2 linked regions of the Homo sapiens genome follow. The protein of the gene in region 2 purifies or fractionates together with the protein of the main gene of each other region. This does not show direct contact. Each region holds a gene or a part of one and is shown on either strand. Other genes may lie near its edges.

Region 1 (4,971 bases), on a different chromosome or scaffold from region 2:
TGACAGGGCCACATCGCGTCTCAAAAAAAAAAATAAAAAGAGGCCCCTTGTCTTTCAGGAATACCAGCGTTCTTCCCACAGGCTCTCCCCTTCCCTTGTGCTGTGTGGGTCTGGGTCCCCTCAGAGCAGGCGGAATCCCTGGGATCCCAGGTCTCTGGACAGGGGCTCCCCTGGCTCCCTGCTGCATCCTCCCACAGCTCTCAGAAAAGCAGAGGCCCCCTGCCTTGTCTCATTTCCCCACCAGTCCCTCCCTTCACCCATTTCTCACCAGATTCCACACCAGGCAATGGTATCTGTGATTCAGGGGAAAATTTCCCACTGTCGCCCAGAGGGTCCACCTTGGATTCCAGCGTGTGGAAGGGTTGGTTGGGAGGTGGCAGAGCACGGTGGGGCTACTCCTAGGCCTGGCACAGAGAGCAAGCCGAGGTCCACTCTCAGCTCTGCTTCTGCCAAGCCCTACAACCTTGAGCAAGTTCTGTGTCCCCTCTGTGCCTCAGTTTCCCCATCTGTATATATGGGAAGTTGGACCAGATAACCATGTGGTCCCATCCAGATCAGTCAGGCAGTGCTTGTTTGACCTGCCAGCATCCCTCCACCTGCTGCGTAGATGGCTGGGCTGCCTGAGTCTCAGCCAAAGCCCAGTGATAATTACAGCCATGCTGGCAAATAGGTATGTAGTGTTCACGGGGCATGGTGCTGGGAGCTTTGCTCACGTTGACTCATTTAATCCTCACAACAACCCTGAGGGAGGTGTTGCTATTATCCTCTTCATTACCAAGGAGGACATGGAGGCACAGAGAGTTGGATAACTTGTGCAAAGACACACAGCCTGTAAGTAGTGGAGTTAGATTTAAACTCATTCTGACTCCAGAATCTGTGTTCTTTCTGTTGTTCCTGAGCTCCAAGAGCCCCAGGATTCCTGGCCAGAAAATAAGCTTCCCCCTGTCCCCACCCATCCTCTCACCTTCCTGAGCTGTAATTAGGCGTAGGAGGTGTGCAGGGGTCTGGGCGGATGGAAGGGAGGATCGGTCCCGTTTGGTTTCTTTCTCAGCACAGCTTGGTTTTAATGCAGCTTTTAGCTGCCTTATGATTACCTCACTCACATCCAGAACTGCCAGGAAGAAGGCGGCATCCCGGCCCCTGTTTCCTGGCCCTGAGAGCCTCCTCTCAGCCCTAGGAGATCCCCTTTGACCCCCAACTCTGTCTCAGCCTCCTGGCATGAACATGGTTCTCCGTAAGACACAGGAACAAAGACTGTGGGTGGAGTGGGGCCGTGGCTGTGCTTCTCCTCAGACATTTCCAGGAAAAGCGTGACACACAGCCCCCTCCATGCCCAACAGTCCCGTTCAACATGGGGGGCCATTCTCACCGGATCTCCTTCCCCACCCTGTTCTCCTTTTCCAGAACTCCCAGGGCCCCCCACCAACCTGGGCATTTCCAACATCGGCCCCCGCTCTGTGACCTTGCAGTTCAGGCCAGGCTACGATGGGAAAACCTCCATCTCCCGCTGGCTGGTGGAAGCCCAGGTAGGGCAGGCCTGGGGCCTGACCAGCAGCCCCCGCCAGGGCACCCCGTGCCCTTGAGTGCAAAATCTTATGTGTATTTCGGCCTGTGTGAATTTTCATGTGCAGCTCTCAATGGCCCATTATACTCCAAATGCTCACACTTGCCAATGTTGTCTCCAACTCCCCCTGCCCCTCACCTGTGTACATGGAAAAACACACACACACTACAGTCCCCTCCTGGGTCGGGGGGTGCCTAGAAAAATACCCAGTTGCTGGAATATAAAAATATCCGCCTTGGCTGTACCCTGGAATCATCAGGGGAGCGTTCAGAAGCGCCAACACCTGTGCCCCTACCCCAGAAACTCTGATTCTGATTTAGCTGATTTGAGGGGCAGCCTGGGTCTCTGGAAGTACCCGGGGTGTTCAAGAGAATCACCTGGGCTGCTTGTTAAAAGCACAGATTCCTGGGCAGCACTCGAGGGATTCTGTAAGTAGTGGAGTTAGATTTAAACTCATTCTGACTCCAGAATCCAGGAATATATTGATCACAAGCATCCTGAGAGATTCTAAGGCAGGAGGGTTGAGTCACACTTGCAGTCATGTTTAGGGGCCTGGAAAGATGGTAGCCCCATATGGTGCCCTCCAGATGAGCCCTGGGTTCTGAACCAACTTCTTCCCTGGCAGGGCTTGTACTGGGGCTCGGAGCACCCCGTGTGGGCCCTGTAGGCTGGACAGGCCTAAGATCCTGCCCTTTTCCAGGTAGGCGTGGTTGGGGAGGGAGAGGAGTGGTTGCTGATCCACCAGCTCTCCAATGAGCCCGATGCCCGCTCCATGGAGGTGCCCGACCTCAACCCCTTCACCTGCTACAGGTAATGAGACTGGCCCGGGGAGAAGGCAGCAGCCTCAGGGCTGGGGGTGGGTGGGGGCTATGGCCCAGACCAGGACAGGGTTGAGAGTTGGGTGAGCTGCCCTTACCATCTTGCTCATCTCTCCCCAACCCCAGCTTCCGCATGCGCCAGGTGAACATCGTGGGCACCAGCCCCCCCAGTCAGCCTTCTAGAAAGATCCAGACCCTGCAGGCACCCCCTGACATGGCCCCAGCCAATGTGTCTCTGCGCACAGCCAGTGAGACCAGCCTGTGGCTGCGCTGGATGGTAAGGCTCCCTCGAGGGCAGGGGTGGGACCTCTCCATGAGCTTCTGGTCATTGCCTCCTAGAAGGTGCACATCAGAATTCCTACAGCTCCTTTCTCCTCTCTTTCTGTTTTCTGATGAGATGCCTGATAATCAACATCTTAGCCCAACGAACAAATGCCCCCCCGCCCGCCGATGAGAGGAAGGAGCTCAAAAATACTGTTTACTGAGCATCGCCAAGTGGCAAGCATTTTAAATTTTCATCCCATTTGATTCTCCCAATAATCTTACAAAGGATACATGATCATCCCAATTTACAGCTAAGAAAACTGAGGCTCAGAGAGGTTAAGAACTTGCCCACAGCCACACAGCTCCCAAGCGGCGGGTCTGGGGTTCAAGTGCCACTGTGGCATTCAGAGAGTGTCCCCAGATCCGGGCTGTGTGTTGAGGGTCCTGACCGTGGGCCATCCTGCACGAGGTAGTGACAGTAACACACCGAGGCTTCCTCTCCTACCAGGCGCTGTTCTGACAACAAGCCTGTGACAGCAGAGTGATCCTGGTCCCCCTTTTGCAGATGAGGAAACCGGGGCAGAAGAGAGGTCAGATCACTCGCCCAAGTTCTCCCGTATCCTCCCACGTGCTTTCATGAACAGCAGGGCTGAGGTCCCAACCCGGGGAATCTTTACCCGCAAGTCCACAGCCCTAACCATCGGGCACACTGCCGTCTCATCCTCTGGAGAACAGGCCACTTCTCCCCACCAGGCCCTCTGGAACATCGTTTCCCAGCACGTGTCCCACAGAGCAGCAATCCCAGGAGGCGTGTGGAGCAAACAAGAATTCTTAGACAAATAAATGTGGGAACAGCACCACATACCACAGCTCCATAGAGAATCCAGGAACACTAGCATAGCAGGAGCCCTCTTGACCCTGCTTCCCCAGGCCCATCTGACCACACAAACCCTTTGTTTCCACGTAAGATCTCACTCATTGTGCAAAACACAACTTGCAAACACACCACACTGTGAAGTCATTATTGCCGTTCCTGTGCGCGGACAGCTTGATGCTAGCGGCCATGAAAGCGCTTGGCGCCGTCAGTCCTCGATAAATATGAGTTATTGATTGCAGTTCCCTTCCCAGAGTGGCTGGTGCCTGAGCAGAGCTGCAGAGCTGTCTCGGCCCACCTCAGTGCCCCGTGCACAGTGTGACTATACCCACCTCCTGCCTCTTTGCTCCCAGGCATCCCCACCCCAGGCTGGCTCCCTGCTTCCTTCCTGAATCTCACTTTAAGGTTTGCAGCTACTAAAAGGTTAGAGCCTGATGCGGAGGGCAGGGACTGCATGGGGGAATAGAAAGGCAGCTGCCATGTGGCACAGGGCCCTAGACACTTCTCAGGCCCACGCTTAATGGTGCGTGGTCCATTACCTTTCCTCAGCAGGTAAAGGAACTTGCACTTAAGCCCCATCTCCGGCTCTCAGGACCATCGATTGCTATCTTAATGGTCTTTGGTCGGCTTCACTAAGTGTCTGCAGGAGGGAGGAAGCGTGTAGTGAGCAGGGGAGGTTGGGGCCGAAGGTGAGGAGTGGGGTAAAGTGGGTCAGCCTAGGGTGAGCCTGTGGACCAAGGGCCCTCCAGAGCCCCTGGGGAAGCAGAACTGGGGGAGGTGAGGGCTGGAGATGCCCCCACCCCAGCTCTGTGCCCTTCAGAGTAGTGGAGGCCAGGCCCTGGGCTCCCCTCCCTGTGTGCACACCTCCACTCTCACCAGCACTGCCCATGGTCATCCACACAACCTTAAGCTGGTGACCACAGCCCCATCAGCCTAGTCCTAAGGCCCCAAAGAAATCTGACTTTTCTTTTCTGTGAGACTCAAACAAGAAGGAGGAGGCTGGTTGGGCGTGGTGGCTTGTAATCCCAGCACTTTGGGAGGCCGAGGCGAGCAGATGACTTGAGCTGAGGAGTTTGAGATCAACATGGCGAAACCTCGTCTCTACAAAACTTAGCAGGCATAGTGGCACACGCCTATAGTCCCAGCAAGAGATTGCTTGAGCCCAGGAGGTAGAGGTTGCAGTGAGCTGAGACAGCACCATGGCACTGCAGCCTGAGAGACAGAGCCAGACCCTGTCTTAAAAAAAAAAAAGAAAAGAAAAAGGAGGCTGAAAATGCAGCAGGAGAGGCTGAGGTTTGCTGGACAGAAGGACTTCCTGACTGGCAGGTGCCCCACTCATCCTGCTCTCTGCCCATGCTCACTCAAAGGCAGGCATGAGCTGAGACCAGGTGCGGTAGGCAATTAAGTGTGTGCTGGCAGCCTGAGTGACAGAGGTAAGCAGCAGAGACAGC
Region 2 (4,971 bases):
ACACCACCCACCACACGAGCCCCTTCTGGACCAGTGGCCCTTATCTGACTCAAGCCATATCTTGCCAAGCCTGTTGTGACACCGATCTTGGCAAACTCACTTTTCATGTCAGGGCCCCTGCAAAACAGACACATATCTGAGTCATGGTATTCGTTTAAGCAATGAAAAGGGTAGAATCATTTCTTACATCAGAAACATTGATCCTCAGTGAGTCAGATGGAGTAGCCTATTTTTCTCATTAGAGGGAATCCTAACTTTGAACTCCACAGAGAGAGCCCCAGGAACTGTGACTTGAACCCTAGAGCTCTACTTAACTTTTCCAAATTGCTGTACTTGAAAATGTTGAGGTCTGCCTGGGTCAATTTAGAGAAGACACTATGAGGACAAAGACAGCAATGGAAGAAAGAAATGAATTCTTCATGTCAGAGCAGTGGCGGAGAAACAGGACCAAAGAGCAGAAGATGTCTGGCAATGTGTCTGGCATATAATAGTTCTCTCAGCCAGGTGTGTTGGCTCCCCCTGTAATCCCAGCGCTTTGGGAGGCCGAGGCGGGAGCATCACCTGAGGTCGGGAGTTCAAGACGAGCCTGACCAACATGGAGAAACCCCATCTCTACTAAAAATGTAGGATGTAGTTCGGCACTGTAATGTTTAGAGGGTGGTGAAAGGATTTCTTATACCACATCTTGTATGTTATCTGGGAGTAAATGCTGCAGCCACAAGCGCCACCAGCAAGTCTTCTCAGGGTGAACGGGAAAAGGGGATGGGACCTGCTGAGCTAAATCACGGTAAACGCAGACAGCAAACAAACTTTCCGTCAAAGAGCTGGATGAAACCTGGGCCGGATGGCAAGGAGACAACACCCCAGGCAGGCGTTCCAGATCTTTGACCTTGCCCCTCCTCGAGAGGAGATGATTGCTTCATCCCTCCTCTCACTGCACATTGTGCTGCCAGCCCTGCTGTGTAGTGTGGGGGCTCAAGACTAAGGCAGTGCACCATTTCTGTGGAGAGAGATGGATCAGGGAGCGGGGGCTTGGATGAGACCCATGATTCACCTCTCTTGAGTCCTTACCAGACTAAGACGTCCTCAAGGGCCAGAGACCAGCCTGCCACTCACCATTTTGCCACCAGACACAGATGAGAACAATTCCCATTAAAACTAACAGGATGAATGCCCCCAGGATGATCCATCTATCTGGTAGACTAGAAGAAGACCAGTGGATATCTGAAGCATTTACTGGTGACACTAAAAAAAAAAAAAAAAAGAAAAAAAAGCACAAGCCCTGTCACATAAAAAAAAAAAGCATAAAAATATGCTTTCCTTAGCCCCTGCTTTCCCCAGGAACACATGGTGCCCCACATAATCACTGGCTCATGTGACAGCCACTCTACCAGGCCCTGGGCCATGAAGATGAATAGGGGTTGTGCCTTGTCCTTATGGAGCTCAGATTTCTACTGAGAGAGGTAGCAAATATCCATCTGATTACCACACAGTTTCACGATTACTGTGGTTAGAACTGTTTGGAGGATGACACAATGGGTGGTGCTTAATTCTGTGTGGGGAAGGTGGGGAAGGCTTCCTAAGAAGTGGCATTAGAGCTGGTGGAAGGGTAATTATAATAGAGGAAGAGAAGGCCTGGATGTTTGCAATGACACAGATAGACTTGGGACCATTTAGCAGTGGGTCATTGTGACTGGATCATTGGTTAATGGGAAGGGGTTTCTACACTGAGGAAGAAACAGTGGGAGGTGGGATGGGAAAGGGAGGATGGTGGGAAATCCTTATAGCCATCACTGACTCTCCAGACAGGAAGCCCACGGAGAAGTCAATCAAATTTTCTATCGCACACACACACTGACACCCACACAGGGAAGGCTTTTGACCTTTAAAGGGAGCTGCCACATTCTCCCACCCAGCTCAGTTACCTGTCGGTTCTGGCATTGCCTCCCAGTGCCCTAAGAATTCCCTGAGCCAGTGATCGCAGTCTCCCTTTGAGAGCTTCCTGAAATACTTTTCCAGCCCTCTGTCTTTCTTCCATGTCTCCTTGATCTTACTGGCTTCATGATTAATTACTGTCCAGGTCATGTTCATTGCGTCAAAGAGGAGGGATTTCTCTCCATTGGTGGCGAACTGCCAGGATGCACCAGTGCACCGTTCTGCTTCACGTTGACAAAACATCTCGACTTGCAGAGTGGAAGGATCTGCAATCCAAACACAAAGCCATCATCCTCCACTCTTTGAGAAGTCCATCATCCTCCAATAGGTCAAGTGTTTCTCTGCACATTTAGGGGTCTGTATTCTTTCTGCCCAGACTTGCCCTTTCCTGCCCATTGGGTCCCATGTGCCTCTATGGTTGGGCCAATGATCAATACACAGATATACCTAAAGCCCCTCCCCATCTGTGTTCTTCCCTCCCCTCTCTTACTGCCTGCCTCTGTTTGCCCACCCCATTCCACACTTACCACTGGTCTTTATCTGGGGTTTGATGTCACAAAGGAGCATCCTGAGGTCTCGCCCCACTTCTCCCAGCGTTTGGGTCAATTCTCCCCAAGTGCTGGTGGCATATACCTTCTTCCCCAGGAGGCCCAGAGGTTTGACCATGTTGTTGTCACTGTTGTACTGAAGGAAAAGATTTTTATTCAAGAAGACCTGCGCTTCACACCAGGGCTGTCCAGGTCTGGACAATGATTTTATAGTGAAGTTGAAGCAAAGAGAGTGACCACCTGTGAGACAAAGATGCAGGTGAGGTCCAGGACAGGGGAAGAGGCCCATTAGAACCTGCGCTTCTGTGACCCAAGACTCCCTGGACTGGGCCAGGCTAGCAGAGGCGGGGCAGCTCCATCCCAGACTCCCTCAACCTTCTGGATCCCTGTTCCCATCTCTCCCTGACTGTCTGGGATGAGATACTTGATGGTACCAGGGACCCCTGGGGTGCACTTAGTGTTAATGGTGTTAACAGGAGGATTCATGTCACAAGTACTTTTAGCAACATCTACCAAGTTCTGAGGCACAAAACAGACAAGCCAGTGTATGACCTCCTGAGACTTAAACTCTAGCTGAACACACATGACATTCAATAGAAAGGAAAAAGAGGCATTTATCACAGGACACACGCTGAATTCCTGTGGGGTCCCAGATGTTCAGGAAAGTGACCTGGAGTAGAAGGCGGGGGGTAGCATTGTAGAACTGCCCTCTGTGAGCCAGTGCCTTGCCTAGGGCCTCAGGCTGTGGTCTCCCATGAACTGGGTGTAACATCCCAGGGATCCTCTTCCTCACGTCATCCTTAAGAGCAGGCACCCACTTGTCTGAAGCCTGCATGAAGCCCCATTCGCCTACCCCCTACCTTTCTCCCTCCTCCTTGTCCTCAGCCAGTTCTTGTGCTCAGGACACTCACCAACCATGATCTCCAAGGCTATTAGTAGCAACAGCAGAAACAAAAGAAGGCGCACAGGGCTAGAAGTCAGGGATATTCTTCGCATACTGTGGAGAGTAACAGGCAGGAAGCTGGGCGTGTACACATTCACCCTCACTGGTATGGTGAAGAAATGTTATCCAACAGCGTGGGTGTGGGCACTGCCCAAATTCTTTACCCTGGAACAACTGAGGTCAGGCCTGTAGAGACCCAATTAAAGAACAATTTTGTGAAGAGAGTGTTTTCCAAGTATTCAGAATATAATCATTTATTGAAAAATAAAAGAAGACATTTAAAAACAAAATTAACTTTGAATAAACTCTCTCTCCTCTCCTGTCCCTGCTGCCCCTGCAAAAAAAACCCCCTCTGGTGTGAGCAGGATGGTTGGAGGTTATGTGAGCTCCTTCTCCTTTCCTCCAGTTTCCTCTTCCCTTCTCCTCCCTGCCTCTTTTGCTTTTCCCTTTCTTCCTGGTACCCCCTGCCCATTCCTGTATTTTCTCCCATCGCCATTCTCCCCTCTCCCACTGTCCCTAACCCGTTCAAACTCTTTCCTCTTAAATGGTTGAGATTTTCTCTCACCAAGCACACCCCAGTATTAATTAAACTAGCTGCAAACAGGCAGCAAGTGGTCTACCATGACAGATGGGTTTTGTGTGTGTGTGTGTGTGTGTAATTGTAATAAAACATATTGAGTCACTCAATAAACACAGAGTGTCTACTACATGTATCAGGCACTATCATAGATGCTAATTAACGAAACTGAAATGGCCAGGCCCTCACAGTGGCTCATGCCTATAATCCCAGCACTTTGGGAGGATGAGGCAGGAGGATCACTTGAGGCCGGGAGTTCAAGACCAGCCTGGGCAACATAGTAAGACTCCATCTCTACAAAAAAAAATTTTTTTTTATTATACTTTAAGTTTTGGGTTACATGTGCAGAACGTGTAGTTTTGTTACATAGGTATATACGTGCCCTGGTAGTTTGCTGCACCCATCAACCCATCACCTACATTAGGTATTTCTCCTAATGTTACCCCTCTCCTAGCCCCCCACCCCGTGACAGGCCCTGGTGTGTGATGTTCCCCTCCCTGTGTCCATGTGTTCTCATTGGTCAACTCTCACCTATGAGTGAGAACATGTGGTATTTGGTTTTCTGATCTTGTGATAGCTTGCTGAGAATGTTGGTTTCCAGCTTTATCCACGTCCCTGCAAAGGGCATAAACTCATCCCTTTTTATGGCTGCATAGTGTTCCATGGTGTATACGTGCCACATTTTCTTAATCTATCATTGATGGACAAGTTTTGCTATTGTGAATAGTGCCACAATAAACATACGTGTGCGTGTGTCTTTATAGCAGCATGATTTATAATCCTTTGGGTATATACCCAGTAATGGGATCACTGAGTCAAATGGTATTTCTCGTTCTAGATCCGTAAGGAATTGCCACACTGTCTTCCACAATGTTTGAACTAATCTACACTCCCACCAACAGTGTAAAAGTGTTTCTATTTTTCCACAACCTCTCCAACATCTGTTATTTCCTGACTTTTTAATGAAC

The links. Proteins that work in one complex are often made in the same cells at the same time.
Region 1: the proteins of RAET1E (region 2) and SDK2 purify together in Homo sapiens (affinity purification with mass spectrometry; 2 studies listed by BioGRID and IntAct, with this or other methods). This does not show direct contact.

Annotation. Positions count from the first base shown.
Region 1 is NC_000017.11:73,395,723-73,400,693, reverse strand, and holds part of SDK2 (protein sidekick-2 precursor), read left to right. Parts: intron 1-1,404; coding exon 1,405-1,526; intron 1,527-2,264; coding exon 2,265-2,374; intron 2,375-2,508; coding exon 2,509-2,659; intron 2,660-3,211; coding exon of another isoform or gene 3,212-3,286; exon of another isoform or gene 3,287-3,651; intron 3,652-4,971.
Region 2 is NC_000006.12:149,887,423-149,892,393, forward strand, and holds part of RAET1E (retinoic acid early transcript 1E isoform 1 precursor), read right to left. Parts: intron 3,613-4,971; 5' UTR 3,480-3,612; coding exon 3,395-3,479; intron 2,743-3,394; exon of another isoform or gene 2,724-2,742; coding exon 2,463-2,723; intron 2,202-2,462; coding exon 1,926-2,201; coding exon of another isoform or gene 1,918-1,925; exon of another isoform or gene 1,246-1,917; coding exon 1,076-1,245; 3' UTR 1-1,075. UniProt on the Homo sapiens protein: Binds and activates the KLRK1/NKG2D receptor, mediating natural killer cell cytotoxicity.